Homo sapiens: one gene and its partners. The protein of the gene in region 1 purifies or fractionates together with the protein of each later gene. This does not show direct contact. Each region holds a gene or a part of one and is shown in the gene's direction. Other genes may lie near its edges. The genes, in order: PPIAL4G, FAT3, PCDH20 and VPS13A.

Region 1 (6,086 bases):
TAAATATTCTTGAATGAAATAGACTTACTGACTGAAGCCAATTATTATATTTTTCCACACCAAAATAAATGCAATAGGAAAAGATGACAGTTCTATGTAGTATTCCTGCTTCCATATTGCACAAATTAGAAACATACATATTCTATTATGTTACAGGGTCTAGGGCTTTGGGAGGACAAGGCTGCAGGCAGCCGAGATTGTGCCGCTGCACTCCATCCTGGGCGACAGAGTGAGACCTTTTCTCAATAATAATAATAAAAGTAAAAAGAAATATAATATTTAATCAATATATGCACACACATGGGTTTATCATGACACACATGACATGTGTGTACAGTGAAAAAAATGAGTAAATCTAGAAACCTGTATTGCCTCAATAGCTAGCTAAGTACTTCAATATGCATGTTTATTTCAACAATTTTGTGTTAAGCTTCAGTGGTAAATAAGCAGAGTACACTGACCATAATGAATACTTCTTTTGATGAGGGTTATCACTACACAATTAAAATATTACATAGTTGCCTGGGCACGTTGGCTCACACCTATAATCCCAGCACTTTGGGAGGCCGAGGCAGGCAGATCACCTGAGGATGGGAGTTCAATACCAGCCTGACTAACATGGAGAAACCCCTTCTCTATTAAAAATACAAAATTAACCAGGCGTGGTGGCACATGCCTGTAATCCCAGCTACTCAGGACGCTGAGGCAGGAGAATCACTTGAACCTGGGAGGCAGAGGTTGTGGTGAGCCGAGATAGCGCCATTGCACTCCAGCCTGGGCAACAAAAGCAAAACTCCGTCTCAAAAAAATATATAATAATAAATATATATATATATTATATATAATCAATATAAATATAATATATAATAAATATATAATATGTATTATACATATAATAAATATATATATTATATATAATAAATATATAGATGATATAGTTTAGAGTTAAATACTGACTGCTCTTGGGAACTTTGAGGTATTCTGAGGGATATAAATAACACGAAGAGAATAGCACATTGGCTTGAAGCAGATTAGAGTCTGCTACCTGCGTGAATACTTGCTTTTCATGAACTATGAGGATGCCCTTAGCTTTTGAACCACTTCTACTTGTGTTGAAATTTACCCTTTAATTTTGGGGTTTGACAGGCTCTGCCCTTCTGTTATGCTTGAGTCTGGCTTTTCCTACTCTGACTCACTTTGATTCTTGACCTCTGAATCTTATTCCTATTTTACAATAAACACACATCGCACATACGCCAATTAGTAGAGTGGAAGAGGGAAAAATTGCCAAGGAACTATGTTTAATTTTGTTCCTTTCGCAAACCAGACACCATAACAGAAAAATTTTAGGAACATGTGCATGTTCAGTAGCCTTCAATGCAATTATACTGGTTATTAAAAAGTGTTGGATAATCAATATTTTTTAAAGATTCACTAGTCCCTTCTGATAATTTTAGAACTTTGGGAAGTAATAATACAAATGTATTTTTAGCTGTGTCCTTTAATCTTTTACTGTTTCCTCTATGTGTGGTGTTTGGTTTGTGTGTGTGTGATAATTATTATAAAGATCAGAAGCTAACAGAGGTGTTAATCATGAACTTTTACATTTTTTTATTTTTATTTTTTTATTTTTTTTAAGAGACAGAGTCTCGCGGTGTTGCCAAGGCTGGATGCAGTGGCGCCAACTCAGCTCACTGCAACCTTCGCCTTCAGGGTTCAAGCAATTCTGCTGCCTCAGCCTCCCAAGTAGCTGGGACTGCAGGAGGGCACCACGATGCCCCACTAATTTTTGTATTTTTAGTAGAGATGGGGTTTCACCATATTGGCCAGGCTGGTCTTGAACTCCTGACCTCATGATCCGCCCACCTCAGCTTCCCTAAGTGCTGGGATTACAGGCGTGAGCCACCGCGTCTGGCTGCATGACCTTTTAACTTGTCTCATACACTCAATATTCTCAAGATATACCTTCCAAAGTGCAAAATTATGGCACTTTGCAGCCCTGACCACTAACTGAGAACTTTGATGCTTTGGATTTTGGAGACCTCATTTTATCACCTGGGCCTTTTACTTCATGACTTGTCATGCTGCCACATTTTGATGGGATTGAGATCAAGATAATAATTCCCAACTGGTCAGGAATATTGTGCCCCTTTGTTTTTATATCCAGATGCAATAGAGCCTCTGACACACCACTACTATTGTTCTTAGGATTTGGAACAAAATGCTTCTTTCTTTGACAAAATAAATGTTTTCTTTAAAGAACTCTTGATTGATCCTGGACCATTGTAGAAACTGAAGTCCTATCAATGCAAAAAAAATATGAAAACATGAGCTGCTTATCATGAAATAAGTGTTTTCCAATTAACTATCCTGCTTCATCAGCAGGTAGGAATAATAGAATCTATACCTATGTCTTCATGGGAAGTTCTCTATGGCCAGTTGATTAGTGAGGGAAAAATTGAGCCTGATTTACAGAAGTCACTGTACAACATCACAGCAGCAGCCAAAAGTAGATTGCTTAGGCATTATAACCTACGTGAATGCAATTTTAAAAGAAATTCAGCCTATGTAATTGGTTGTCCACGATGTCTAGAAGGAGAGATATTATTGATGTATATGTGGCAGCTAATAATTTGTCTAGATAATTAGGGACTTGGGGCCAGGCCTGATGGCTCACACCTGTAATCCCAGAACTTTTGGAGGACAAGACAGGTGGATTGTCTGAGGTCAGGAGTTCGAAACCAGCCTGGCTGACATGGTGAAACTCCGTCTCTACTAAAAATACAAAAATTAGCCAGATGTGGTGGTGTGTGCCTGCAATCCTAGCTATTTGGGAGGCTGAGGCAGGAGAATCTCTTGAATCCAGTAGGAAGAAGTTGCAGTGAACCAAGATTGCACCACTGCACTCCAGCCTGGGCAACAAAGCGAAACTCTGTCTCAAAAAAAAAAAAAAAAAAAAGAAAAGAAAAGATAATTAGGGACTCAGAAAGACAAAGACTGAAGGATTGGTGGCAATGAGTTTTGGGGAAAAAGTATGTAGATGAACCACAGAAAATGAGCCAGAGTGTAAGAATATTTGTGCTTAATACGAATGCTCACCAAACTATCATCAGGAAGGTTATCAAATAGATATGAAGGTATGAAACAATCTCTTTCACCAGGCACTACATTGCTTGCTCAGAAGGCTAATAAACAGCAACATTGGTGGTAGCAGTAGAGAATACACATAGGTTTAGCAACATGTTGGACTTTACCACTCTCGCTTACAAAAGCCTATTTAGCTGTCAAGACTATTAGGTGTCCAACACACAAGCAACAAAGTCCAAGGCTAAGCACACAATAACATATCCTGGGTGAATAAACCAGTCACCTTTTGTCAGACTTGTTGATTTTATTGGAGCTCCTCTATGATAAAGGCAACAAGGAATTTTGTAAATGGAATCTACCTTTATCCTTGAATTACATTTGCTTTACCTGACATCATTTTTCTCTGATCGCCACTCTCCACGGGTACATTGAATGCCTTATATATACTGCCATAATATCCTGTTCTACATCCTTCTATTAAAAGAACTTGTTGTATAACAAATGAGTAGATATTCATTGGACTCACCTGGTCCACCATTTATCCTATCACTAACCAAAATTATTATTATTATAGAATGGTGAATATTTTATTAAAGACTCAATCACAGTGCCAGCTGGAGACAATGGCTTATAAGGTTGTACTCATGCTAGAGGATGTGGTGGTGTATCCTCTGAACTAGTAACTAAGTATAAGCTTGTCTGGTGTCTCCCATATAAAAAATACAACAATCTTTGATATTTGTTATGAATGTTGAAGTGACTCCTTTTGTCATTACATCTAATGATCCACTCCAAATACTTATCTCTTGTCTCTGAGATTCTAGGTTTTTGCAGAATTAGTACCCAAAGGGAGAGTCTTAGCAGTATTCCATTTTACAATCCATCCTTCGTTAGAGGATGAGAGACTTCTATCTAGCCTTTTAGGTTGCCTGAGACCTTTAAAGAAACAGTCAAAAATTTAAAATTTAAAATGCGGCTACACTGTTGCATGGGGTAGTAAATCTTGACCTTAAAACTGGTATTTGTAAGAAAAACAGAAAGAATTCAGGGATCCCCTTTGATGGCTCCTAATTCTATACAGTCCTGTAAATATTCCTGAAGACTAACCAGGCGTGGTGGTGCACACCTGTAATCCCAGCTACTCCAGAGGCTGAGGAAGAGAATCACTTGAACCTGGGAGGCAGAGGTTGCAATGAGCTGAGATTGTGCCACTTCACTCCAGCCTGGGTGACAGAGCAAGACTCTGTCTCAAAAAAAAAAAAAAAAAAAAAGAAGAAAGAAAGAAAGAAAGAAAGAAAGAAAGAAAGAAAGAAAGAAAGAAAGAAAGAAATGAAGACTGCCACAACTTGGAAGCAACCAAGATGTCCTTCAATGAGTGACTGCATAAGCAAACTGTGGTATATTCCTACAGTGGAATATTATTCAGTGCTAAAAGGAAAAAACTATCAAGCCACAAAAAGATACAGAAAAAACAAAGACATTTTGCTAAGTGAAAGAAGCCAGTCTGAAAAGGGTACATACTGTGATTTCAACTATACGACATTCTAGAAAAGGCCAAACTATAAAGACAGTAAAAAGATCAGTGGTTATCTTTGCAGACGCCGCCATCGCTGTGAGCCCTGTACTATCAGCCATGGTCAACTCCGTCATCTTTTTTGACATCACCGTCGACGGCAAGCCCTTGGGCCGCATCTCCATCAAACAGTTTGCAGACAAGATTCCAAAGACAGCAGAAAACTTTCGTGCTCTGAGCACTGGAGAGAAAGGATTTCGTTATAAGGGTTCCTGCTTTCACAGAATTATTCCAGGGTTTATGTGTCAGGGTGGTGACTTCACACACCCTAATGGCACCGGTGACAAGTCCATCTATGGGGAGAAATTTGATGATGAGAACCTCATCCGAAAGCATACAGGTTCTGGCATCTTGTCCATGGCAAATGCTGGACCCAACACAAATGGTTCCCAGTTTTTCATCTGCACTGCCAAGACTGAGTGGTTGGATGGCAAGCATGTGGCCTTTGGCAAGGTGAAAGAACGTGTGAATATTGTGGAAGCCATGGAGCACTTTGGGTACAGGAATAGCAAGACCAGCAAGAAGATCACCATTGCTGACTGTGGACAATTCTAATGAGTTTGACTTGTGTTTTATTTTCACCACCAGACCCATTCCTTCTGTAGCTCAGGAGAGCACCCCTCCACCACATTTGCTTGCAATATCCTAGAATCTTTGTGCTCTTGCTGCAGTTCCCTTTGGGTTCCATGTTTTCCTTGTTCCCTTCCATGCCTAGCTGGATTGCAGAGTTAAGTTTATGATTATGAAATAAAAACTAAGTAACAACAACAACAACAAAAAAGCTCAGTGGTTGCCAGGAGTTTGGGGATGGGTAGGGAGATAAATAGTTCTGAAACAGGCGATTTTTAGGGGATTGAAAATACGTTGGTAATAATGTAATGATGGGTACATGACATTATGCGTTTTGCAAAACTCCTAGACCTGTACCACACAAAGAGTGAACCCTAATGTAAACTGGGGGTGGGATAAAGGTGACAGTATGTGAGAACTCTGTACTTTCTGCTCGATCTTTCCATAAAGCTAAAACTGCTCAAAAAATAAAGTCTATTATTTTGTTAAATGAAAGAAATTAACAATGACCATGGCACGCTCACACAAAAAGATTATCAAGGACATTTCTCTGTCAGGAATGAATATTTGGTCATCTCACAAGGCAAAACCCTGACTAGCAGAGGTGTTAGCTGAGGGCACATGGCCATAGATGCCAATAGTGACCTGCTGGCCACTTGCAGAAAGGAGAGCCTTGACATCCAAACACATTGTTTCTCTTGTATTGTCCTGTGCATACTTATGTATCTTAACAACTTTCCTTCTTTCCTCTCCATTTATCCCTCTTTTTAAAACAGGGCTTATTGAGGGTGATTAACTTAATTTTTAAATGATATATGGCAGAATGTCAAGAGAGTATAGTGAAGAACTTCGTAGA
Region 2 (7,937 bases), on another chromosome or scaffold:
ATCTATTGTACTAAAATATAGGGACACCAATAAGAAATCATAAATTACATGTAAGATTAAAACAGAGGTTTTGAATGAAAAACTCTAATATTCCATCCTCTAGACACTTGAAGAAAAGCAGGTTTAATCAGAGGCCAAGAGGGTGGATGAAAATTTTGCTAAAGATGATAAAGTGGGATCCTGGTACTATTAATAACTTGGTACTTGATAACATTTGCCCTTATTTATAACATTATGTCAAAACATATAACAGGTGTAACACTAAATATCCTTTATGCTCATTAGTCATTGTTCGTGTTGAACTTTAGCTTGTAAATAAATTAGAGAGATGAATAAAAATTCCCCCTCATTGGAACGGCAGTGGTGCTAACTAAACCACTTGAATCATGCAGTTGTAGCCCTTCTCACTTTTGCTTTTCTTTGTTTGATCATTTGATTAATGACTTCTCCACTGGCCCAAAGATCTATAAGGGTAGATATCTCATCAGTTTTTGCTAATCATTACATCCCCGACACTTAAAAGAGAGCCAAGTACACAGCTGCTCAAAAATAATTTTTGAACAGATGAATGGGTGAGTGAATGAACAAATGAGTAAGAAAGAGAAAAAGGAGTGGCCTAAAGAACATAGAATTATAGATGTGTTAAAAATGAGTCTCTGACATTACGTTTATTCTCTGTCTAGCCAAAGAGAAGAAAGCAGTAGCCAAAACAGGGGCATAGAAGGAGTTTCCCAAAGGATAAAGACAGTTAGTAGGACAATTTGCTTGCCGAAAATAGAGTACCTCAGTGTGTCCAAGTTTGGTTTGGTTGCTGTTCCAAAATAAGAGGGATTGAAATTGATCAGCCTTAGGATAGTTGAGTGGCAAAGAAGGCCACCTGCAAGTACAATTAGTGGTATACCAAGGGTGGGCCAGTAGGAGAGATCTGCACAGCAAGCAGGCAAACGGGTGGGTGGGAGCACTATCTGTAGAGAATTTAAAAAGAAAATCAGTCTTTTTTTTTAGTATTACTTTGTAGTTGCAATTCTAAAAAATGTCAGTGATAAAATATTCCTCTGTAACAAGATCATTTTGGTCTAAGTTCTAAAAAATTCCTGTAGTTACTGTTTTGAGTTTTAATTACATATATGTAAATTCAAAATTAGCATATTTTAATTACTTACTTTTTAATAAACCTTGCAGTCTAAGTTGAAATTGATTCAGAAAACTTCTAGTTGTACAACAGGTCCCCAACACAGGTGTCCTTGGGTACACGTTTGTTTAAAAGTAAAATCCTCATAGGGCAGTTTGAAAAATCATTTGGCCGTCCCTTGACGTAAGTATTTAGCATTAGTCGTAGGTGTTTTAGCCTGAGATTGCCAGAAAATAGAGCATGATACAAGGACTTGCTGAAAATATTTTATTTGGGAAGTGTGATCCCAGGAAGCATGTGAGGAACAGATGGGGAGAACCAGGGAAGGATGGAGCGCCAGTACAAGGATGTGTTATCAAGCTGGCCATTGCTTCAGGAGAATGGCTGCTTTGTTTAGCAAAGACCACCAGAGAAGCTCCATGGAACACATTTCTGAATCCTTTCCTTGCAGATGGAAAGAGGAGTATTTATCCATGGGCTCCCACCATAGGCTCTTTAATCTCTCATGCTTCTAGGTTTTGGTTCACATTGTAACTTCAACTAAAAAGCCCTGGGTGGGGGTAAGATGCAAGGGGAGCCCAGAGCAAAGCACTTTCAGATTATACCTGTGTGAAGCTGGTTAGAGCCCACTTAGAACTGGCTGTTCCTGTGGTGGCTAAAAGCAACAGGTAAGGCCCAGATGATCTGAAGTGGTGTATGGAGGCTGTGATACATGGCAAGTAATATGATTTTATTATAGATCTGCAATTTTTTATAGGTTCCTTTCCTATGAGGACTTCAATGTCCTACATACAATAATCATTGGGTCTGATAAAAAAATTCCCAAGTTTTCACCATTTGTTAATTATTTGAATATTTATTGAATATGTACTAATATTTATTGAGTGTGCCAGGCTTTATGCAGGGATAGAAATGTAAATATGACAGATTCTTGACTTTCATAAAGCTCACTGTTTTATCAACTCTATGCCTTCCACTGTAGTGACACAGTGGCACCCCTCCCCCGAGCCACATCACCTTTTTTTAAAGAAAGAGTCTTAATCCATCAGCCATGCTGGAGTGTAATGCGGCAATCATAGCTCACTGTAACCTGAAACTCCTGGGCTCAAGTGATTCTCCTGCTTCAGCCTCCCAAGTAGCTGAGTCTAAAGACATGAGACACTATATGTAGACACTACACTGGCCTAATTTTAATTTTTGAGGAGGTGGAGTCTTGATATGTTGCCTAGGCTGGTCTTGAACTCCTGACCCCAAGTGGTCATCCAGACTTGGCCTCCCAAAGTGCTAGGATTCCAGGCATGAGCCACTGTGTCTGGCTGGCACTTTAAAAAAAAAAATACAGTCCCCTTATACAATCAGAATTATTAGCACAATGAATAGTAAATGCTATGCAAATCTAAAATGACCAGAGGAGTGTCCCATTAGATAAACCACTCTACTATTTTTGCAGGAAGTCTCTTACCCACAGGCTATAATGGCTTATGTCAGCCCTGGGAGTAGAGACTGTTTACTTTATTATGTATGTACTGCCTAGGGATGGGGAGGCTGAAATTTAGACAGATTTCTCTACTTATCTCTAAGGCACCTCTGAGGCATTAAAGAACATTTGGGGAAGCTGAAATCCAGGAGCTACACCAGCAGCAGAAGTGGCCACTCCTCCAATCACCTGGCAGTCTTCCCAGGCAGAAGGTAGAAGATGCCTGGCCTCCTTGCCAGCACTCCTTCCTTGAGCATCCCAGTGGCCAAACCACCACCAGCCGACTCTACCCAAAGTGCCTGGTTGCAGGAGCCAGGCACTCAGGTGGGAAATACCTTGATTCTTTAAAACCTTTGATGCAAAGTTAGCTGCATTCTGTCACAAGGAAAATGCCATGCCAGGGACATATTTATATGACAATAAACTTTTAGTGCCTTAGAAAGTTGCTGAATAAAACTAAAATCAGAATAAAATTAATCAGATGCTAACATTTTGGAGAGCAGGTAAGTTTTCCTAGCTCTGTTAGTGGTTTCCTTCACTCCAGACCTATCTTCTGGCCTTCCGTGACAATGAAGCCCTTGGTAACATCATGCTTATTACCCCCGAATTAGCTGATGTATGAGGAGCTGTCACCGTTCCTTAGTATTCACATTAAAATCTCAGGGCGGAATGACCAGAGCATGCCGGGTGCTTTATGTGGCAGTCAAGGCAGCGAGGCTGCTGGAGGCTTTCAAGGGGAACTTTCCACCCGTGGGGCGTGGCGAGGCCTTTGTGTAACTGTGAACAGGGCAGAGGTCCCAGGCTGGGAGCGCGAAGGCCAGAAAGGTAAACTCAATCGGCATTTTAAAGCGCTTGCTCTAGTGATTGAGCACATAGCCCTCTAGAAGCAGCCCTACTTCGCCCTCCAAAGAGAATTTCGTGTTTCAAAAAAAAGTAACGATTTCCTCTGGGGAAGAGATCTGCAGTCCTGGGGTCCCTTTCTCCTGGTGCCAATGGTAGAGTTGGGGAGAAAGTTCCCGATAGAGAGCATAGGAGGAAATGCGCCAGCTGTGCTTGCCTTAGAGACATATGTGAGTTGAGCTCTCTCTCTCCTCTCTCTCTCTCTCTCTCTCTCTGTGTGTGTGTGTGTGTGTGTGTGTGTGTGTGTGTGTGTGTGTAGGTGGCGAGTGGAGAGGGTTAAGGCTGCTTCTTTGCTGGGGGGAAAAGAAAGGCAAAAGTGTGAGGATACACAGAGCAGGGAACGAGTGGAGTCCCCTCTCCACCGGGGCAGTGTGAGAACGGAGGGCGTGCAGTCAGGGGGTCCTAGGACTTGGGTGGGTGCTGCAGAAGTGACCAGGAGGGCTGACAGGGTGGAGATGCAATCATCAAGCTCCAAATCAATCATCCACCCCTTCAGAGTCCCTGTCCTCCATTAAGACAAAAAAATGTTTAAAACATATTGGGGGCAGAGGAAGAGTGAAGAGATTGGACCACGTTAGCTGCTTAGTCTAGTTCCCTCCTCCACAAGGCAATCGGATGACCCCAGGATCTCAATGTTTAGGAAAGTCGTAGGAGCCCTCACTGGGAGGCACATTTTTAGTCCAGAGGCACGACATTTGATGGTTTAATCTTCACACTACAAACTAGCCTTGGGACGTTATATAAACCATGTTAACCTCGATGTGCCTCAGTTTCCTCTTTGTCCCAGGAGAGTAACGCGTTCTCTGTCTTCACAGGGATGTGGTGCGGGTGAGACTCAATGCACTGTGCGAAAGCTCTCCCAAGCCAGCAAGCACCACGCTCTCCCCGCGGCAGGAAAGTACGTTGGTGTCATCCTAGAGCCCCAGAGGGCTGAGGGAAGACTCGAGCTCTAAAATTAGCCGCTTCCAGGCCCGGCGCCGGGAATGCCCTCCAGTTCGCCGCGCCTCCTCCGCCGCCCCCTCCCGCGCGCCCCCTCTCCCCTGCGCCACGCTCCTAGATCGCTAGTCATCCCCGCCGCCGAGGCTCCTCTCCCCCTCGCCCTTTTCGCTCGCGGTTTGGGAGGAGGAGACTGCGAGAGACAAGCGCGAGGGGGAGACTGGAGAGGGGCTTGGCCGTGCGTCGGCGTCGGCTGTGATGGGGAGCCCGGAGCAGCCAGGCGGCGAGCAGTAGCGGCGGCGGCTGCAGCTCGGAGCAGACAGGAGAGCCGGCGCTCCTCCCCGCAGGCTGCGCTGTGAACTGGCCTGCGGATTGGGATCTCGCGCCTCCCGTCCCTCTCCTCCCGCTGCTGTTCTCTTCATCTCGGCTCCCCTCCTCCGCTTGCGAACCCCCGGCGGCGGCGGCGGCGGCGTCCCGAGCGCAGAGCGCTTCTGCTCGCGGCCTCAGTCCCGGCTAGCGCGCGGTGGGCGCTGCGGCGGCAGCAGCCGGGGGACCGGCTCGCCCGGAGCAAGAGCGCCGAGCACCGGGTGAAGAAGACCACGGGGGAGGCGCCTCGTAGAGCCGTGGATCGCCAGCGGAGGCAAGGGTGCGTGGGGATTTGTAGCGTGATGATTTGGCTGCCTGGTGCACCGACTGGAGCGCGCCTGCCGGAGCACAGCCTCAGCTGCTGGGTGCAAATGGGCTGCGAGGTGGGCTGGGGAGGCGAGAGCCGACGAAGCGCGTGGGGGAAACTTTTCACCTTGTAAAGTTCCAACCTCCGCGCAGCCCCGAGCCGCCGTTGCTACCGCTGCAAACAGGAGAAGAGGGTGGCTTGGCCCCGCGGCGGGAGCCGGGAGGTTTACACGGAGAGTTGGCCAAGTTTGGGGCTGAGGATCTGGGGAGGGGTTGCGAGGGGGGTTGCGGATCAGTGCACCCATCCCCGGCTCCCAGCCGCCCCTGCAGGTGGATGAGAAGGTTCAGGTGGCGAGCCTGCTTGGCAGCCGGTGCCTCTCGGGCGCAGTGGGGGATGTTCAGATGCCGATGGATGATGCACTTAGGGGACCCCGAGGTGCAAGTTGGGTCATCGCTAGGCGAGGCGCGGCGCAGAGAGGGAGCCCAGCCTCCACTTTCGCTAGGAAAGGGAAAGGGTTACCAGTCTGCGGGTCCGTTCCCCACGCCTGACTCGGGCTTGCGGGGCTTGTGGTCAGGGTGAGATGTAGTGAACGGCGGCGGCGGCTCTTCGACTGGGGACGACATCCTTTACGGAGTGGTTGGGGACAGAGACTGTCCCTGCTATCTTGACAAGGAGAGGGAACCGGAATGCTTTGCGAGAGTGCATGATTTTTGGCGGGCGTGTGGGAAGGCTGCTTGTCTTTGAAAAGAAAGCAGCGCGGGTCTGACCATCCCCAGGAGTGCGGAGGAGCTGTCTCCGGATTGGGGGCGAGAACGCCAGGGGCACCAGCTCCGAGCTCAGGCCCCACTCCCGGGCGGTTCGGGACGAATCCCCTCTACAGGCCAGTGTGTGTGCAGGGCAAGTGTAGGGGGCTGAGGGGCGCTGGCGGGGAGGCAGTAGAGGTGGCCTGGACCATCTTGGCGCGGCGCGCGGTGAGCGCGAGGATTCCGCCAGTGGGAGTCGCTGAGCTAAAGTGCATCTGGCCCCCCGGCTTGCATGATGGCGAGCCCGGATATTTTTAGCTGTGCTGTGATCTGAATTCCCTCCTCTCCTCTCTCGTTGACTTTTGTCACATGTGCTTTCCGAGATGGTTTAACATTGAACATGATTGGGCTTTGCGGAAAGCAACTTTTATTCACTTTCCACCGTTCTCCTCTTGTGGGCGGGGGGTGGCGGGGGCGTGCTTGGGGCAAGGATGCAGGGGTGGCCGGAGTTTGGCTGCGAGCTAAGAGAGCCGCTTGGGTTGCTCGGGATGAGAGGAACAGGGGTGCTCCCGGGGTGTGGGTGTGCTGGCGGTGACATCCTGAGGCTGCAGCTCGCTGGAATAATGGGCTCAAACCAGGCGGTGGAGAGGGGTCCCCGGAATGGACGTCGGGGGCGGGGAGGCTGCGGAGACCCTGCGAGGTCTCCGTGAAGGACTAGGAGGGGCTCCCGGGAGGGAGTGGCGCCTGCGGCCCGGAGCGTGGGCGGCCGGTGGCTCTGGCACGCGGAATCTGGTGGACTCCTAGCGCCTCGGCCGGGAGCTCCAGCTCCATCCCGCCGCCGCCGCGCGCCCAATGGGACTCAGCTTCGGGTTTGGGCGAACCTGCAGCAGCCGCGGCGGGAGGGAGGGACGCTGGGACCGCGGTAATGATTGAAGTCTTTTTCCCCCCTCTCCCCTCCTCCCGCTCCTCTCCGCCCCCAGACTCTGGCGCGTTTGTTTTCCAAGTTGGATCCCACTTCCATTTACAAGTGTCAGACAAACCCGCGAGAACCTCCCCCAACCCGCCCCGGCCCCAGCCAGACTAGGGAGGGCGCCCAGGGGGAGGGGGCGAGCTGTCTGGGCAGTGCCTGGGGAGGTGCGACGCGCCCACCCGGGGCTTGAGCGGCTGGGGTTCCTGTGCGTGGGTCCTTAATGTTTAAAAGATACACATGAACAGCAACAAAACCCAAACCACTCGTGGCCACTTGTTTTCTGCCGCTTTTCTCCCACTTGCCTCGGACATATTAATTTTCTGGCCCCGACGCTAGTCTTTTCAAAGGCGAGTCCGGGGTAGTGGGAGGAAGGGGCGGGGGAGCAGGCCTACCAGTTCATCACGGTGGATTTGTGCTCCTGGCTTTGTTGCTAGGATTAGATTCTCTGATTGTGCCCAGGCTAAGTTAAAATAAAAGCAGAGAGACAGAGAAGCGGCCAGAAAGACTGCAGACGACTTTGCCTGGATCCAGGCGGCAAACTCAGGTGGTGGAAAGGGGAAGCCCGCCATCTAGGAATTGAGGACCGAGGTGCCCACATCTCAGTATCGATCAAACAGAGCCCAGATTTCTTCTCCACCAGCAGACACTGAACTTCTCTTCACATTTACTGAATGCTTGAATGATGTTCTGGTGTGACGTGGAGATTTGAATCTGAGAAGGAAAGGAAGGGAGGAGGGGATGGAGGAGAGAAGAGAGAAGAGATTTGAGAGACTGAGATTCTTCAGAATCCTAGAAATTGCACAAAGCCAACTGCTTCTGCTTTTTTTCTTTCTTCTTCTTTTTTTTTTTTTTCTTTATTCCTAAATTGGAGCAATTGAACAGTGAGAGAATAAGGAACAGCCAAGGAAACCAGGGCTCTAAGAGACAAAGACAAAAAAAAAGCATAATAACTTTAGCACTTTGATGTGCTTCTTATTTAATAGGGTTGGAGTGGGGGAAGTTTTTTTTATTTTTTTTTTAACATTTTACAAGGAGAAAAGTTGTCTCTTAGAATTAAACCGAATGTTGATATTCAATCATGAATCTCAGTTGTTGCCTTTTTGGAA
Region 3 (8,362 bases), on another chromosome or scaffold:
AAATTAGGCCTGGGGTTTTCTAATGACTTCACACAGTTATTTTTATCCCTGTTAAAGTGATGCTAATTGAGTTCTGAAATGAAAGGACCCTTCCATCCTATCTTATTCTTTCCTATTGGAATATATAGGGAAAGAGGAGAAATGTACAATCTATTTACACAAAGTTTTCTAAAACATAAAAAAGAGTCATCAGGACGGAATAATGCTTACAAAGGTCCCATGTATAAGTTGCACAGTACAGCAGTAAATGTTTTAGAATACAAGTTTTATAGTAAATTAGCTCATTTGGACCTTCTTCTTGCAAGTGTGTAAATGTATGTTTATTTACTGAATTAACTGTCCAGCTTTTTTAGCAAAAGGCCTCACTGCTGATTCCCTGTTAGTCTCACTATTAATTTCTGAATCGTGTAGGGAAATGAAGTAGGATTTTTTCAGTTTGTGTGATATACTTAAAAAATAATTAGTACTTCAGTAGTTACTTAAAAATATTTGTAAATATTTGTAAATTTGAACAATGAATAAAATAAAATAAAGTTTAGAGTAACTCTTAAAATCAAGGCTTTTGATCTTAACCGTAGATGGTTTAAAAAATATACTGTTTTTACAGGTTATCCTCTAATATCAGAGCAATTGTGAGGTTAAAATCTAGTACTATTATAAGAAATGGGAGTATTTTCATAATTTGAGTCAGCTATAAGTCATCTTTCTTACTGTCACCTAGCATGTAAAATGAGGGCTAACTAGGTGATCCCTAAAATTATCCAAAGCTTTTCAGTACTTTCAAGTATACACACAGCTATACACACATTATATATTTTACATGTATACATTGGGAGATTTAAGTTAGCCACACAGCTTAGACAAGTTATATCCATGTGTATGTATCTATTTACGAAGTAGTAATGGACTAAAGAATCCTTTCCTTCGAAAAGGCATCATATAACACATCTATGCCTCCAATTTTTTTTATTTTAAATGAGTGATAAATGTTTGTTGAATAGAAATACATTTAAATGTGTGTGGGCCCTTTATTTTCCCATTCTGATGAGAAAGGCATACCAGAGTAGAAAGATCACATATTTTGAAGGTCACAGATCAGGCTCTGGACTAGCATGTTATGTATGGCTATAAAGCTGGTATAATAATAACTATATTATAAAACTGCTGTGAGGATTAACTAAATTACATATGTCAACCACCTAGTAGCATGTTTGAAACATAATTGACACTAGGTAACCAATCTATCATTTCTCAGGTATTTTATTGGTTTTTCAAATGTAATCATCCTTTTAACCTTGATGATTGAATCAAAAAAGAATACAGATATAATATTTCATTGTATATATATTTATTATATGTTATATTTATATGTGGTATATTTTACACTTTTACATATGTACCTATATATTAATAATATATTTTGTGTACACATGTACATATATTTTAATTCATCAAAAGGGACTTCTAATTTTAAAAATTCTATTAAGACAAAGAGAAATGGCCTTAAAATAAGGTAATATTCTAAACTTATATTTATTTGCAATTATGAATTAACCAGAACATGTACACGGTTATGGTTCAAGATAGTTTTAAATATCTGTGTATATAGTGATTACATGAAACTTTGTGTATACCACAATATTATTAAACTAATCTAAATAGTGGAAATAGATTTAATTGAGAAATACAAATAAAACTACCTGTAAAGCATAGTGCTTCAAAAATTTTTTTTAAAGATTTAAAACGTAAAAAGTTTACAGATGGTATCTTTTTTCCTCATCTTTTTTTTTTTTGAGATGGAGTCTCGCTCGCTCAGTAGCCCAGGCTGGAGTGCAGTGGTGCGATCTCGGCTCACTGCAAGCTCTGCCTCCCGGGTTCACACCATTCTCGTGCCTCAGCCTCCAGAGTAGCTGGGACTACAGGCGCACGCTGCCACGCCCCGGCTAGTTTGTTTGTTTGTTTTTTGTATTTTTAGTAGAGATGGGGTTTCACCATGTTGCCCAGGCTGGTCTTGAACTCCTGAGCTCAGACCATCCGCCCACCTCAGCCTCCCAAAGTGCTAGGATTTCAGGCGTGAGCCACCGCGCCCAGGCAAAGATGGTATCTTGATATATACTTATAATCTTGCTCACATCTTTGTAGTGGAGATAATAAAATTACAAAAAGAAGGCTTGCAGTAAATGAAAAATAGTATGTTTTAGTGATAGAATGCAATAAGTAATAATCAAGTTAACCCGTGTATCAGCATGCAGTGTCTGTTAATGCCAGATATGAGGTAAGCAATTTCATGCATATACGTGCATGAAGTGTGTAGGGGTCTTTTTTTATGAAATTGAAACAGAGAAGTTTGATGACTTGTCTAAAGTCACACAGAACTTAGCAACAACCCAGAGAATGTAATCCACTCCTCTGGCTCAGCTCAGTGCACCGTCTATTGTATCCTGCTGTTTTCCTTGTCTATAGGAAAAATAGGCTTGGGAGGCATATAATCTAACTATTCTTCTAGATCGATTTTTACAAAACATGTGGGAAGCAGGCCCAGAGCAATTGAGACGTCTAAGAAGTTCATAAGTATTATTTTCAAGGGACTAATAGCATAGAAGCTTTCTGAGTCATCGTTAGAAATATGTGACACCAGAAGGTAGGTCGCAGGCTGGCATCATAAGGAATAAGAGTTTGGGAATGCTTTCACAAGGCCCAGAGAAGGGATACATGGGAAGAAAGATGTCTATTTAGTCCTTTTTATTTTATTTAAGCCCAATTAGGGTATAAACATTGTGTAAAACCTTTGGATTTTCAGAGAGGAAAGATAATAACAAGTAGTTCAGTGAATGGTTTGAAATGCGACGTGGAAGGTATTGTTCAATATTATGCCAAGATCTCCCAATCTTGATGACAAACTTCCATGCAGGGACTTTGCAATCACCGTAGTCACTTAAAGCAAATGTGGTTGTTAGTGTCGTTCCAAACATTATTTTCAAGATGTGTTCAATACTAGTGTTTCAACTTACATGAAGAACTTTTGCTATAATTCATGTTTATGGTTTTTAGAAACACTCTAGAGAATAATTATGGCCAAATGGGTATATTTAATTTCTTTTCAACTTAATAAAGGGAGGTGTGGTAATAACCCTTTCCACAGAGACCAGCTGGGTGATAGGGTCAGAAGACGAAGATTCTGCTGGTGTAGGCTGGGGGAAACACTTTAAAAAGGAAGTGCATCTGTACTACAAGCAACCACTGCAAAGTAGGGAAAGGGAGAGTAAGGGGCCAGGGAAAAGTAAAAACTTGAGATATAATTACAAAGAGAAAATGTCACTTCACCTGGACTATCATCATAAACAACAGCTCCTGTACAATGTCCTTATAACAAAGGAAAAATGAAGAAAATAGCTCCCTACGTTTCCACCAAAAAGGTGGATGATCTTAACTTGTTGCAGAGGGCATGAGCTGTGAGCGGATAAACAGCCCACTCTGCTGCTCTGTCTCTGGGGGAGAATTGTTGCAGACTGCAGGTTCTCTGACTGCTGACAGATTGCCTAACTCTGGCCGTGGGCCTCCAACTTCGGGAAGCTGTGGGTATTGTATAAAGATGTAAGTTAAACACGTTTCAGAAGCAGCTTGGTACTGATTTGGGGAGTCAAGTATGTTTCAACTACAGACCTCAAAGTAAATATTTACTAATATGGCAAAAGTTCAGCTGTAGGGCAGAACCAGCAGCTAAAAAGCACAAGGAGGGAGATCATGCTTCCCTGGCTGCAGCTTGTTTACCAACCTTCAACTCAGATGTGCATGTTCCTTTGAGTGTGTGTGTGGGGTGGGGAGGAGGTGGAGTGGGAGAGGGGTAGGGGGGTGAGGGGTGGGGTGATGGTGATTGGGGGCTGAGGTTTACCACTTCATCAGTGCTCCATTTTCACTGTAAAGGGTTTGAAGGAACTGATTTTACCAGCCAGGTTCAAATTGTATGCCAAATTTGTATTATAGAGAGACTTGTGAACTCCATGTACAGCCCCATTTGCACAATAACAAGCTGTTACCCTCCAGGTGTTTTGATGTAGTGTGTTGTCCATATTTAGGACTCTGTGTTTAGGATTATTAGAAATGAGGAGAAAATAGGAAGGATAGGAAGCAAAACAGTTAGCTCAGCCAAGCAATTTATATTCTAGTTAGCATTTGGTGGAAGGGGAAAATTGAAGTAGTTCCTACAGAAAGCATATGGAAATCAGGTATCAAAGACCTTTTTTCACTCTAGGCTCAGTCACTGGTCATTCAGCATGTGAGGTTTTATGTTCAGGACCCTGCAGAGGATATCTGGAAGCCTAGCGATGAAGAGAAATGTCTTCTCAAGGAAAGGCCGAATCATGGGCTTTTCCATTACTTACATGGCAACCTGCAGATCAAAAAGTGTTTCAGAGGCTTAATGCACTGGAGTATCCCACTAGCCTTGATTTTATAAATGAGGAAACAGAAGGCCAGGAGTTAGGTGACTCCAGGTTACATAGCTATTCAGTGTCAAAGCCATAGAAGATAGGCAATCATTTGGCACCACACTCTTCCACAATTCCTTTATGAAGGACCAGTTTTCCAGTAGGCAATCCAGGAGAAAGAAAGAGAGAGAGAAAGGGAGAGAGGCAGGGAAAGAGGGAGAGAGTGAGGGAGCGAGGGAGCTAGGGAGTAAGGGAGGGAGGGAGGAAGGAAGGAAGAAAGGAAGGGGGGAAGGGGAAGAGGGGAAGGGGAAGGAAGGAAAGGAAGGAAGGAGGAAAGGGGGAGGGAAAGAAGGGGGAAGGAAAGAAGGAAGCAGGGAAGAGGAAAGAAGGGAAGGGGGAAGGGGAAAGAGGGGAGGGGGGGAGAGAAGGAAGGAAGGAAACAAGGAAGGAAGGACTAATTTGAAAAATAACCAATGTTTTACCTAGGCTTCAGTGAATACCTCCCCCTCCCCACACCAATTTACCGCTTAGATAAATATGTTTAAGATTACTTGCAGGCAGAACTACTTGTGTTACAGCACAATTGTTTCTACTTTCCCCTTGGCTCTTCCCCGCATCCAGAAGCCACTACTGCCTCTAAAATAAGACCACAAGGCAAACACCCAGAGACATTTGAGCCTCCAACTAGGAAACTAGCAGAAGCTCTACCACTGCCCACAGCAAAGATTCAAAATTGGGGTATGTCGAAACCTTCACTGAATTCATATATTTACTTTTCCGGTTCACCCTACGTTACACAGAAGTTGAGATTCCTTCCCTCCGCTGAGAAAAGTGCATTTTCTTTCTCTGTGCCAACACTGCTGGATCCGAGGCTCCAGGAGGAACTGTTGGCAAAGCAGGCGTTTTGGGACCGCGCCTGTGATTGCTCTGTGGCGCCGACTTCCTCTCTCTGTTACATCCATATACAAATGCAAGCTTATTTATTTATTTTAATTCTCCCTCTCTTGCTAGCAACCTGTGGACTTGGCATCTGACTGGTGCGGCAAGGAAGGAGGCTGGTAGGTAAGCGCTACTGTGCCCAACCCCGAGCTGCCTCTTCGCAGTCTTCAGGAGCAAGTCCCCCATTCCAGCTCCTCTGGCAGAGTATGGAGTTACCTGCGTCCGGGGCAGGAAACCATGAATGTGCCCTTCTGCCCTCTTGCCTTTCTGCCACTCTTTGAGTTCCCGTCCTTAATTGAAGAGCCAGTGACTATTGGCTGAAGTTCCCCCAGCGATTTGCATGAACCGAGAGGGAGTGTCTTCTGCCGCCCTCCCTTCAAGAGCGCTCTGACTGCAGCCTCCCAGGGAATGCGCGGCCGAGGGAATGCGCGCAGCTCACAGGCCCTGGGAGTGAGCTGGTGCCCGGCGACCTGGCACCCGCGCCTGGATATGGGGCGTCTACATCGTCCCAGGAGCAGCACCAGCTACAGGAACCTGCCGGTAAGGGTTAGGGTCAAGGAACCCCGCGACCCCGACAAGTTGCAGTATTGTGAAGCAATTCCCACTCGGATGGTTTTTCAAACCTTCTACCTTTATCTAAACTTCACGGGAAGGATGGCGCCGGGAGGGAAAGGGAGTTTGGGATAATGTGTCTTCCTTTTAACAAGGAATAGGGAAGTCCGTGGGTCATGAGAGGAAGTTTCTGAAGCAAGAAATGTATCCAGATAAGGTCGAGGGCATCGGGGGTGCGCTCAATCCGCTTTAGCTACAGGGGTTCGGGATCGTTTCCTGCTGCTGGCGTCTGGCTATGAATGCCTACTGCAATTGACAAATTGTTTTTGCATAGCCATTTTCCGCGTTTACTTTGCTTCCCCCTAAGGGAGGGGGATTAGTGACTGCTTGGTAAGGGGTGGAAATCCAGATCCTTTCGGTTTGATTTCAGATGTGTGCTAAAATAAAAATCACTCTTTCCGACCTAAGACCTAAAGTGTTGGAGGTGGAGGAGGAAGTGTTGGTATTTTTTCTATATTATTATTATTATTGCGATTGTGGTTGTTTTTATGGTTCTCTTAGTAAGGGATGTAACACACTGCGTGTTCCAGCACTCTAATGGCAGAATCACTTCAAGGAGAAATAAATTGCCCACCTTTCAGTGCTCTCTACTACCAGCCCCCTCCCTCCCCATCACCTACCCTGGGTTTCCGTGTCGCTTTGCGCAGTCTCTGAGTCGGAATCCTCTCCACTCCGGTGTGTGTTTCCAGGGATGTTTTACGGTTTGGGATTCTGAATGTTAGCTGGATGAGGGTGGTGATGGGGAAACGAGGGGGGAAGGCGGGGGCGGAGGGGATAGAAAGTGAACAGCAAAATTAAGTTTTGGAGACGATATTGCCCCACAGATCTCTCCTTCGCAGCAGGGTTCTTCTCCGCCCCCGTTCTAATTAGAGGTTTTGCTTCTGGGAACGGGGATGGGGACAGCAAGGATCACAGGGGCGCTAGTTTCTCTCTCGGACCCCTATTTCCCCGTGTGTGTAATGAGCTTTCTTCCCTCCCCCAACTCCAGCATCTGTTTCTGTTTTTCCTCTTCGTGGGACCCTTCAGCTGCCTCGGGAGTTACAGCCGGGCCACCGAGCTTCTGTACAGCCTAAACGAGGGACTACCCGCGGGGGTGCTCATCGGCAGCCTGGCCGAGGACCTGCGGCTGCTGCCCAGGTCTGCAGGGAGGCCGGACCCGCAGTCGCAGCTGCCAGAGCGCACCGGTGCTGAGTGGAACCCCCCTCTCTCCTTCAGCCTGGCCTCCCGGGGACTGAGTGGCCAGTACGTGACCCTAGACAACCGCTCTGGGGAGCTGCACACTTCAGCTCAGGAGATCGACAGGGAGGCCCTGTGTGTTGAAGGGGGTGGAGGGACTGCGTGGAGCGGCAGCGTTTCCATCTCCTCCTCTCCTTCTGACTCTTGTCTTTTGCTGCTGGATGTGCTTGTCCTGCCTCAGGAATACTTCAGGTTTGTGAAGGTGAAGATCGCCATCAGAGACATCAATGACAACGCCCCGCAGTTCCCTGTTTCCCAGATCTCGGTGTGGGTCCCGGAAAATGCACCTGTAAACACCCGACTGGCCATAGAGCATCCTGCTGTGGACCCAGATGTAGGCATTAATGGGGTACAGACCTATCGCTTACTGGACTACCATGGTATGTTCACCCTGGACGTGGAGGAGAATGAGAATGGGGAGCGCACCCCCTACCTAATTGTCATGGGTGCTTTGGACAGGGAAACCCAGGACCAGTATGTGAGCATCATCATAGCTGAGGATGGTGGGTCTCCACCACTTTTGGGCAGTGCCACTCTCACCATTGGCATCAGTGACATTAATGACAATTGCCCTCTCTTCACAGACTCACAAATCAATGTCACTGTGTATGGGAATGCTACAGTGGGCACCCCAATTGCAGCTGTCCAGGCTGTGGATAAAGACTTGGGGACCAATGCTCAAATTACTTATTCTTACAGTCAGAAAGTTCCACAAGCATCTAAGGATTTATTTCACCTGGATGAAAACACTGGAGTCATTAAACTTTTCAGTAAGATTGGAGGAAGTGTTCTGGAGTCCCACAAGCTCACCATCCTTGCTAATGGACCAGGCTGCATCCCTGCTGTAATCACTGCTCTTGTGTCCATTATTAAAGTTATTTTCAGACCCCCTGAAATTGTCCCTCGTTACATAGCAAACGAGATAGATGGTGTGGTTTATCTGAAAGAACTGGAACCCGTTAACACTCCCATTGCGTTTTTCACCATAAGAGATCCAGAAGGTAAATACAAGGTTAACTGCTACCTGGATGGTGAAGGGCCGTTTAGGTTATCACCTTACAAACCATACAATAATGAATATTTACTAGAGACCACAAAACCTATGGACTATGAGCTACAGCAGTTCTATGAAGTAGCTGTGGTGGCTT
Region 4 (8,393 bases), on another chromosome or scaffold:
TCTGGGGCATCTCCTAGTTGACTTTGACTCAGCAAACCCTTCAAAAATTATTTTAAAAATAATTATACTTTGATAGAGAGTTGTTGCAAAAAAATCTATAGGGGGGGTCCCATATACCCTTCACCCCAGTTTTCCCCAATGGTGACATCTTATATAACTATAATGCAATATCACAATAAGAAAATAAAGATATTGGTACTATCCATGGAGATTATTCAGATTTCTCCACTTTTATATGCACTTACGTGTGTGTGTAGTTTAATGCAATTTTATATAACCACTGCCACAATCGAGATACAGAAGTGTGTCATAAACATAAGGCTCCTTCCTGCTATCCATATGTAGCCGCACCTATCCATCCTACTTATACTTAACCTTTGGCAACAACTAATTTGTTTTCCATCTCTATAAATTTGTTACTTCAAGAGTGTTTCACAAATATAATAATACATGTTTTCACTCGCATAATTCCCCTGAGATCCATCCAAGTTGTTGCATGTATCCATAGTTCACCTTTTTTTATTGCTGAGTATTCCACAGTGTGGATGTACCACAGTTTGTTTAAACATTCACCAGTTGAAAAAAATGTGGGCTGTTTCCAAGTTTTGGCTATTCATGTACAGGTTTTTGTGTGATCTATAAGGTTTCATTTTTCTGGGATAAATGTCCAGGAGTGCAATTGCTGGGTCATATAGTAAGTGCATGTTTAGTTCTTGTGGCAACTGCCAAATTGTTCTCCAGAGCGCTTAACTATTTCACAACCCCACCTCCAGTGAATAAATGATCCAGTTTCTCAGTATCCTAACCAGCCTTGGTATTGTCACTATTTTTTCCAACCATTCTGATAGATATAATATGATAAGATATTCTGATATCTCATTGTGGTTTTACTTTTCATTTCCCCAATGGCTAATGATGTTGCACATGTTTTCATGCGCTTGTTTCCATCTGTATATACTCTTCAGGAAATGTCTGCTCATGTCTTTTGGTAGGCTTTTGAGAGTTCACATCCATGTCTATCAATTATCCGATAAGGTTCAGAACCCGCTCACAGCAATTCATCAATGTGCATACATAGTTTTCCCAGAGAGTTATAAGATAACATACAACATAATAGCATTTCTGATACATCTTCTTCACCAGTTTAGAAGGGCAAAATAATACATGCTCACTACAAAAAAATTAAACTTGAAAGAACAGAAAAAATACACATTGCCAAAAGTCTCACCATATAGAGATAACCACTGTTAATATTTGGTGAGCATACTTCTAGATTTCTTTCTGTATGTAAATGCTCTGCACACTTAAAAACTCACCAATTTGTATAATTAGTGGGATACTATTCTGCACCTTGTTTCTCATGAGCATATATTATCGACATCCTTCCACACTAGTATAGACTTTCATTATCATCTTAATGCCTGTATAGTAACCCACTACGTGTGTATGTTTACTTAACCAGCTTCCCTGTTAATGGATATTTCGGTCGTTTCCATTTCTTTTTGCTATTATAAACAATGCTTTAAATAGTGTTCTTGGCTGGGCTTGGTGGCTCAAGCCTGTAATCCCAGCACTTTGGGAGGCCGAGATGGGTGGATCACTTGAGGTCAGGAGCTGGAGACCAGCCTGGCCAACATGGCGAAACCCTGTCTCTACTGAAAAATACAAAAATTAGCCGGGTGTGGTGGCACCCGACTGTAATGCCAGCTACTTGGAGGCTGAGGCAGGAGAATCGCTTAAACCCTCCTGGGAGCGGAGGGTGCAGTGAGCCAAGATCGCACCATTGCACTCCAGCCTGGGTGACAAGAGCGAGACTCTTTCTGAAAAAAAAAAAAAAAAAAAAAAAAAAAAAAAAAGTTCTTGTGGGAATAATTTTTTGGATTTTTATAATTATTTTCTTAGAGTAAATCTGTGGAAGTGGGATTGCTGAGTTCGTCATATACACATGTACGTATATATATGTATGTACGCTGATATATATACACATATGTACTATGTCAGTTTGTAAATGTTTAGGAACTGCCTTTTAGAAATATTGTGACAATTTACATTTTCCCCTGCCCTGCTTAAGTAAGATTCTTTTTTTTTTTTTTTCTGAGATGGAGTTTTGCTCTTGTTGCCCAGGCTGGAGTGCAATGGTGTGATCTTGGCTCACTGCAACCTCTGCCTCCTGGGTTCAAGCGATTCTCCTGCCTCAGCCTCCTGACTAGCTGGGATTACAGGTGTGTGCCACCATGCCTGGCTAATTTTTTTTTTTTTTTGTATTTTTAGTAGAGACGGGGTTTCGCCATGTTGACCAGGTTGGTCTCGAACTCCTGACTTCAGGTGATCCACCTGCCTCGGTCTCCCAAAGTGCTGGGATTACAGGCATGAGCCACTGTGCCTGGCCTTAAGTAAGATTCTTATAAGGTTTTTACCTTTTTGCTTGTATTCCCCTTCCAGTGAATTTTTCTCTTTTTATTAAGGATTGGAACACATGGTCTAAAGAATTTTTTTTTTTTTTTCACTGTGTCACCCAGGCTGGAATGCAGTGGCACCATCATAGTTTACTGCAGCCCCAAACTCCTGGGCTCAAGGGATCCTCTCACCCTTGGAGTAGCTGGGACTACAGGCATGTGCTACCATGCCAGGCTCCAAATAACTTTTTATTGTTTAAAATTTTTAAAGCATAAACAGATGGAGCACAGGGCTCTGTGAAGTTAGATCAGTAAAAGTCCCATACCTATAAAACGGCCATCTTCTACACTTGTTCCTCCAGGACATCTTCTGCTTCAACAGCTTTGTGGTCTGCTTCAACAGCTTTGTTATCTGGCCATCTAGCCTGCTACCACAATGCCCATGGGGAATGATAAGGACAAGCAGCCCACCAATGACATTTACTTGTGGACAAAAGAATTAAGATTAGGAGAAAAAAAAATTCCAAGATTACTACCAGTACACCAAAACTTTAAAGACGAAGAGCTGTGGCATGGAAGGTATACATAAAACTGCAAGTCCTACTTGCAAAGTTAGAGATTTATTGTAAAGTTAGATGATATTGCAGTTTGGGGTCATTCAGATGCTCTCCCCCTCTTTTGTTTTTCCATTTGATCAAACAATGAAGTATAGCATTTTAATTGTGATCTAGAGAAAGAATAACATACACTGACATACTTCCTAATTTGAAACTCGAGTTTTTATGGTAGTCATTGGGCTTATTTTTCAAGGTACAACAGAAATTTGGTTTAATGGTTTAATGAGCATACCTTTTACATGATGATGTTAATATATTTTTGCTTACAAACTTCCTTAGATGGATTAAGCAATGCAAAGACTGAATGCAAAATGTTGTCTTTTAGTATTTACAAAGCATGTTCATATACATCTAACACTAGATAAGAATTCGGTTACAATATGCATCCACTTATTTCTAACTCTTCCTCAGCAGAATTTTTTTTCATTGCTTTATGCTTATACCTCTAACTTTTCAGCAACATCCCTTCCCCTTCCTCACTTCCACAAAATTTTCCTAGATCGTAGAAAACTAATATGAAAACGTTTGCAAGATACTTAAGATGGATTTTTGGAGTTCTGGAAATTCTTGTAACTTTGAATTTGCAGCGCTAGATATAACAGCGGAATTTTGCAGCTACTGTGTATCTGGCTTCTTATTAATAGTGCAATGGCAAAATGCCTCATTATGTAGAGCTCTTCCCCTTCCTAGGCATTTTAGCCTCTATTCGTTTCTCCGTGCAGGTATTCTGAAGCAGACTGTTAGCTGAATGAGAGAGAAGCAGGTGGGGTGGTAGCCAATCAGAAGGGCCAAGTTCCAGTTCTTCCACAGAACATTGGTTGTATGACCTTGCACACATCCCTAACACTTCAGCTTCATTATATTTAAGACTAGGAGGTTGGAGACCTCATAAAGGTCCTTCAAATATAAAATTATATGAAAAACATTCATAAACTCAGGTAAAAACTTACAGTTTTTGTCAGGCATTCTACTTGCAAAGGCACACCCTAAACATTTAATTTTGAAAAGTCGGTGACTATGCACAAAAAGTAGTAAAATGACACAGGAATTAATAGAAATCCATCATTATTCATTTAACGTGTAAAGAGAAAACGCTCAATGTACACTTTTTCGGTCCTGCAGATGATTAATTACAGTTCTCTAAACCTCACATTTAGCATCTCTGTGACCTCAGGCCTTTGGGATTACTTCTAAGTAAGACCAAACAGGTCGAAAGATCTGTAATTGTAATTTATTTTAGGTCAGTGGTTCGGTGGAGGCATAGGGGTCAAGGGTCCAGCACTCCCAGTATTTCTTGGAGGGTGTTCAGCAGTTTCCAGACCGGCTGACTCCAACTCTTATCTGCAGGGAAGCGTGTTACTCTTTGGAATGAAAGACAGCTCCGTATAAATGACTTGACCAAAAATGGGTGCTCATCTCAGATGCAGGGCAGGGACTATGTAACTCCATCCTCGACTCGCAGCAGGAAGTTAACTCCTCCTGAGAGCCAGGCGGTCGGAGGACCAGGCGGGGAGGTTACAGGCACCAAGACACCCAGGCTGGCTGGACCCTCCCACCCTGTAATGATGAGGGGAGATGCTCCCTGGGACAGCCCCCTTGAAGCTTCTGGCGACGGGGCTGGGATCCGCCCACCCTTACTCAGGGGCGAGCCCTGTCATACGCGTGGAAGCGGCCACCACCTTCTAGGGGGAGGGGCGTTCCCGTCGGGCGTAACCGCCCCGCCCTGGGGGGCCGCTGGGGACGCTGATCTGCAGGAGGGGGCGGGGTCGGAAAAAATCCGGTAGCTCCAGACCGGTGTCCCGTTGCCAGGCGATGGGGAGGAGGCGGGGCCGACAGGAAAGAGGAGCCGGGCTCGGCGCGAAAAGGGCACCCTCCAGAGCCGCGGCCGCGCAGCCGCCTTTCCTCCCTCTCAGGGCTGCGCGCCCAGGTCTGCGCCGCGCTCCGCCTCCAGCCGCGCGCAGACTTGCGCACGCGTCGTGAGAGCGACCGCCTCCGTCTCTCGCTGGGCTCGCTAGGGCTGCGCGTTGGGCCAGCGGGGGCGCCGCAGCTGAAGCCGCCCCGGAGCCGGTGAACCGAATTACCTCGAGGGAGGGGCGTGGGGAAGGCGGCGGGAGGAGGAGCGCACGGGCCGGCTGCCGTGCCCACCACGGCTGAGGAACATGGTTTTCGAGTCGGTGGTCGTGGACGTGTTGAACCGGTTCTTGGGGGACTATGTGGTGGACTTGGACACGTCCCAGCTCTCTCTGGGCATCTGGAAAGGTAAGGAGGCCGCCGCCGCCGCTCCCCGGCCTCTCGTGCTTCCCGGCCGTCTCGCTGCCCGAGCGGCGTCCTGCGTTCTCGGGGCTTCGAGCACCTTGCTCGCCGGGTGCAGCCACCTGCCGCCGCCCGCCTGTGGGTCAAGTTACGTAAAGCCGGGCGGCAGTTCCCTGGCCTCCGCCCTCGAGTTGTTTATATTTTGGGGGAAAGGAGAGGGTCATGAGTGCGGGATGAAAAGGTCTATATTTTCCGAGCGGAGCGGACTTGCCGTGGGCTCCGTGGGTCTGGCGTTCAAGTCCCGGCGAGGGGCCGTTCTCTACCCCTGGCCCCGCACGGTCCGGCTTTAGCCGCGCGGGGCGAGGAGGCGAGACGACGCCTTCCTGGGCTGGGTCCCATCCCTGTCCTTTGCCCCCCTGGGTTTATGACGAAGGCCCCAGAAATCCCCCGCGTGTTGCATGCTGCCTCGCACGTGAAGGCAGGGCGCTGTGACCGGGGACGCCCGCTTCCTTGCTTCCCCAGCCTCAATTCCTGGCTTCACCCGTGGTGCTTTCTGCTCTCCCCCTTCCGGCCCTAGGACCCGGACGCCGGCTCTCTCTCGCCTGGGTTCGGCGGATAACAAAAAGGAAACTCAAGTGCAAAGTAACTCAAACAGTTGCTTGTGTGGTTGCAGTTAACAGCCTGACCTAGGAATGTGTAACATTTTCAAGACTTTAGGATATGTGGGTCAGAGTGAATTGCCGAATTTTAAAGAAAAACCAGGGCGTGCGGTGCAACGTCTCAGACCTGCAAAAGACCGGGCTGAACAGGGCCCTACGCTGCCTAGGTGGTGAAGGACCGAGCTTTCCTTGTGTCCGTTTAGTGTGGTATTCTGCCTTAGTGAGAGCCTCATTTTTAGTGTTTCCATCTGTTTTTGCATTATGCGCTTGTTTATTTTAAACACCCGCTAGAAATTAGACTCCTTTGTGAAATGAATTTCCCAGGCCAAAGTGAGGGTTAATTTTGTGTGTGAAGTGTGTGTGTTTAAATATATATTTAAAGTAATTTATTCTTGTCTGTGCACACACTTCCAGTCTTCTTCTAAAATACTTACCTTGACTCTTCTCGTTTATGAGATAATGTAAACAGGTAGTTTAGTTTGATTTTAAAGAATGTTACTACCGTGGGGACCTAGTATCATGATGGAGAGTGAGTGGACTACAAAAGCTAGGGATATAGTGATAGCTGCTCAGCCTGTTTGATTAGTACAAGAAACTTGCAGTCTGTTTATGCTGCTTCTTAGTTGCAAAGTGAAAATAAAATTTGTCTCCCATGTACCTCAGAAGGAAGCCTTAAGAATACTTGAGGTGAACTTTGATCTGTAGTGGAGTCTTGCTTCCACATTCAGGGTGGAGGTTTGTCTAGAGTGTGATTAATCAACTTATTTATTTGTTTAAAATTTACATGCAGTAAAATTCACTCTTGTGATACAGTTCTGTCTTGACAAATGCTAAGAGGCATGTATGCACCACCACAATAATGGCACATAAAAGGTTCATCAAGCCTCCCGAATTCTCTCAGCTGCTCCTTTGCAGTTGATCTCACCCCGCCACCACGCCCGGCTAATTTTTAGTAGAGAGGGGGTTTTGCAATGTTGGCCAGGCTGGTCTCAAACTCCTGACCTCAAGTAATCCGCCTGCCTCTGCCTCCCAAAGTGCTGGGATTACAGGCGTGAGCCACTGCGCCCGCCTGACTGTAAGTATTTATCTGTTTGCTGGTTGAAGAATATTTCAGTTTTTGGAGGTTATAAATAAAGCCGTCATAAACATTCACGTACGGGTGTTTGTGTGAACATAATTGTTATTTCTCTTGGATAAATACCTAAGAGTGGTTTTAAATTGGGTTGTACGTTTTTTTTTTTTTTTTGAGATTTATTTCATATACCATAAATTTCACTCTTTTAAAATGTACAATTCAGTGTTTTTTAGTATAGTCACAAAATTGTACAACCATCACCACTCTCTCATTCCGGAATATTTCAGCACCCCAAAATTAAATCGTATGTCCATTAGGAGTGACTCCCAATTTCCTCCCTTCTCACTACTCCACCTCTGGCAACCACTAATCTTTCTGTCTTTATGGATTTGGTAATTCTGGACATTTCATTTAAATGGAATTATATGATATGTGGCCTTTTGTTTCTGGCTTCTTTAACCTAATGTATTTTCAAGGTTCCTCCATGTTGAAGGATGTATGACTATTTCATTTGCTCTTAGGGTTGAATAATATTCCATTATATTCATAGACCACAATTTATTTATCTATACTCACCAGTTGCTGGATGTTTAGATTATTCCTAAACATCCACCTTTTGGATATTATGAATAATGCCACTGAACATTCATGTACAAGTTTTTTTGTGGATGTATGTTTTAAATTCTCTTGGATATATACCTAGAAGTGGAATTGCTGGGTCATATGCTGACTTTGTGTAACCTTTTGAGGAACAGCCAAACTCTTTTTCCAGAGTGTTTGTTTTCTTATGGTTGAGTTTTGAGAGTTCTTTAAATATTAAGGATACAATTTCTTCATCAGATATGTAATTTGAAAATACTTTCTCAGTCTTTTCCCATTTTGTCTTTTGCAGAGCATACATTTTTGATTTTGGGAAAAGCCCAGTTTATAAAACATTTCTTTTATGAATCATGGCTTTTGGTATTCATATCTAAGAAATCTTTTCCCAACCCAAAGTCAAAGATGTTCTCCTGTGTTTTCTTAAGGAAGTTTTGTAGTTTTAGGTTTTGGATTTCTTTTTGTATAAGGTGTGTGATATGTGTTGAAGGTTGAGGTTCATTTGTTTGCATGTGGATGCAAATATCCAATTGTTTAGCACCACTTGCTAAGAAAGAGGATCCTTTCTCTATTGAATTATCTTTGCATTTCGTAAAAAAAAAATCAGTAGACTTAATATTGTGTGGCTTTAGTCTGTCTCAATCTGTGTGTCTATCATTTCACCAATACTACACTGTCTTGATAACTGTGTCTTTGTAGTTAGTCTAGAAATCAGGTAATGTGATCCCTCTAACTTTAGTCTTTAACAAATAATTTAAAAAATAACAAGTCATTGTCCAGGTGTGGTGCTCATTCC

Evidence for each region.
Region 2: the proteins of PPIAL4G (region 1) and FAT3 purify together in Homo sapiens (affinity purification with mass spectrometry; 2 studies listed by BioGRID and IntAct, with this or other methods). This does not show direct contact.
Region 3: the proteins of PPIAL4G (region 1) and PCDH20 purify together in Homo sapiens (affinity purification with mass spectrometry; 2 studies listed by BioGRID and IntAct, with this or other methods). This does not show direct contact.
Region 4: the proteins of PPIAL4G (region 1) and VPS13A purify together in Homo sapiens (affinity purification with mass spectrometry; 2 studies listed by BioGRID and IntAct, with this or other methods). This does not show direct contact.

The regions. Positions count from the first base shown.
Region 1 is NC_000001.11:148,481,887-148,487,972, reverse strand, and holds PPIAL4G (peptidyl-prolyl cis-trans isomerase A-like 4G), read left to right. Parts: upstream 1-4,670; 5' UTR 4,671-4,720; coding exon 4,721-5,215; 3' UTR 5,216-5,425; downstream 5,426-6,086. UniProt on the Homo sapiens protein: PPIases accelerate the folding of proteins. It catalyzes the cis-trans isomerization of proline imidic peptide bonds in oligopeptides.
Region 2 is NC_000011.10:92,220,084-92,228,020, forward strand, and holds the start of FAT3 (protocadherin Fat 3 isoform 1 precursor), read left to right. Parts: upstream 1-4,734; 5' UTR 4,735-5,091; intron 5,092-7,937.
Region 3 is NC_000013.11:61,412,571-61,420,932, reverse strand, and holds the start of PCDH20 (protocadherin-20 precursor), read left to right. Parts: upstream 1-5,083; 5' UTR 5,084-5,774; coding exon 5,775-5,906; intron 5,907-6,966; coding exon 6,967-8,362. UniProt on the Homo sapiens protein: Potential calcium-dependent cell-adhesion protein.
Region 4 is NC_000009.12:77,172,533-77,180,925, forward strand, and holds the start of VPS13A (intermembrane lipid transfer protein VPS13A), read left to right. Parts: upstream 1-5,001; 5' UTR 5,002-5,172; coding exon 5,173-5,272; exon of another isoform or gene 5,273-5,385; intron 5,386-8,393. UniProt on the Homo sapiens protein: Mediates the transfer of lipids between membranes at organelle contact sites. Binds phospholipids. Required for the formation or stabilization of ER-mitochondria contact sites which enable transfer of lipids between the ER and mitochondria.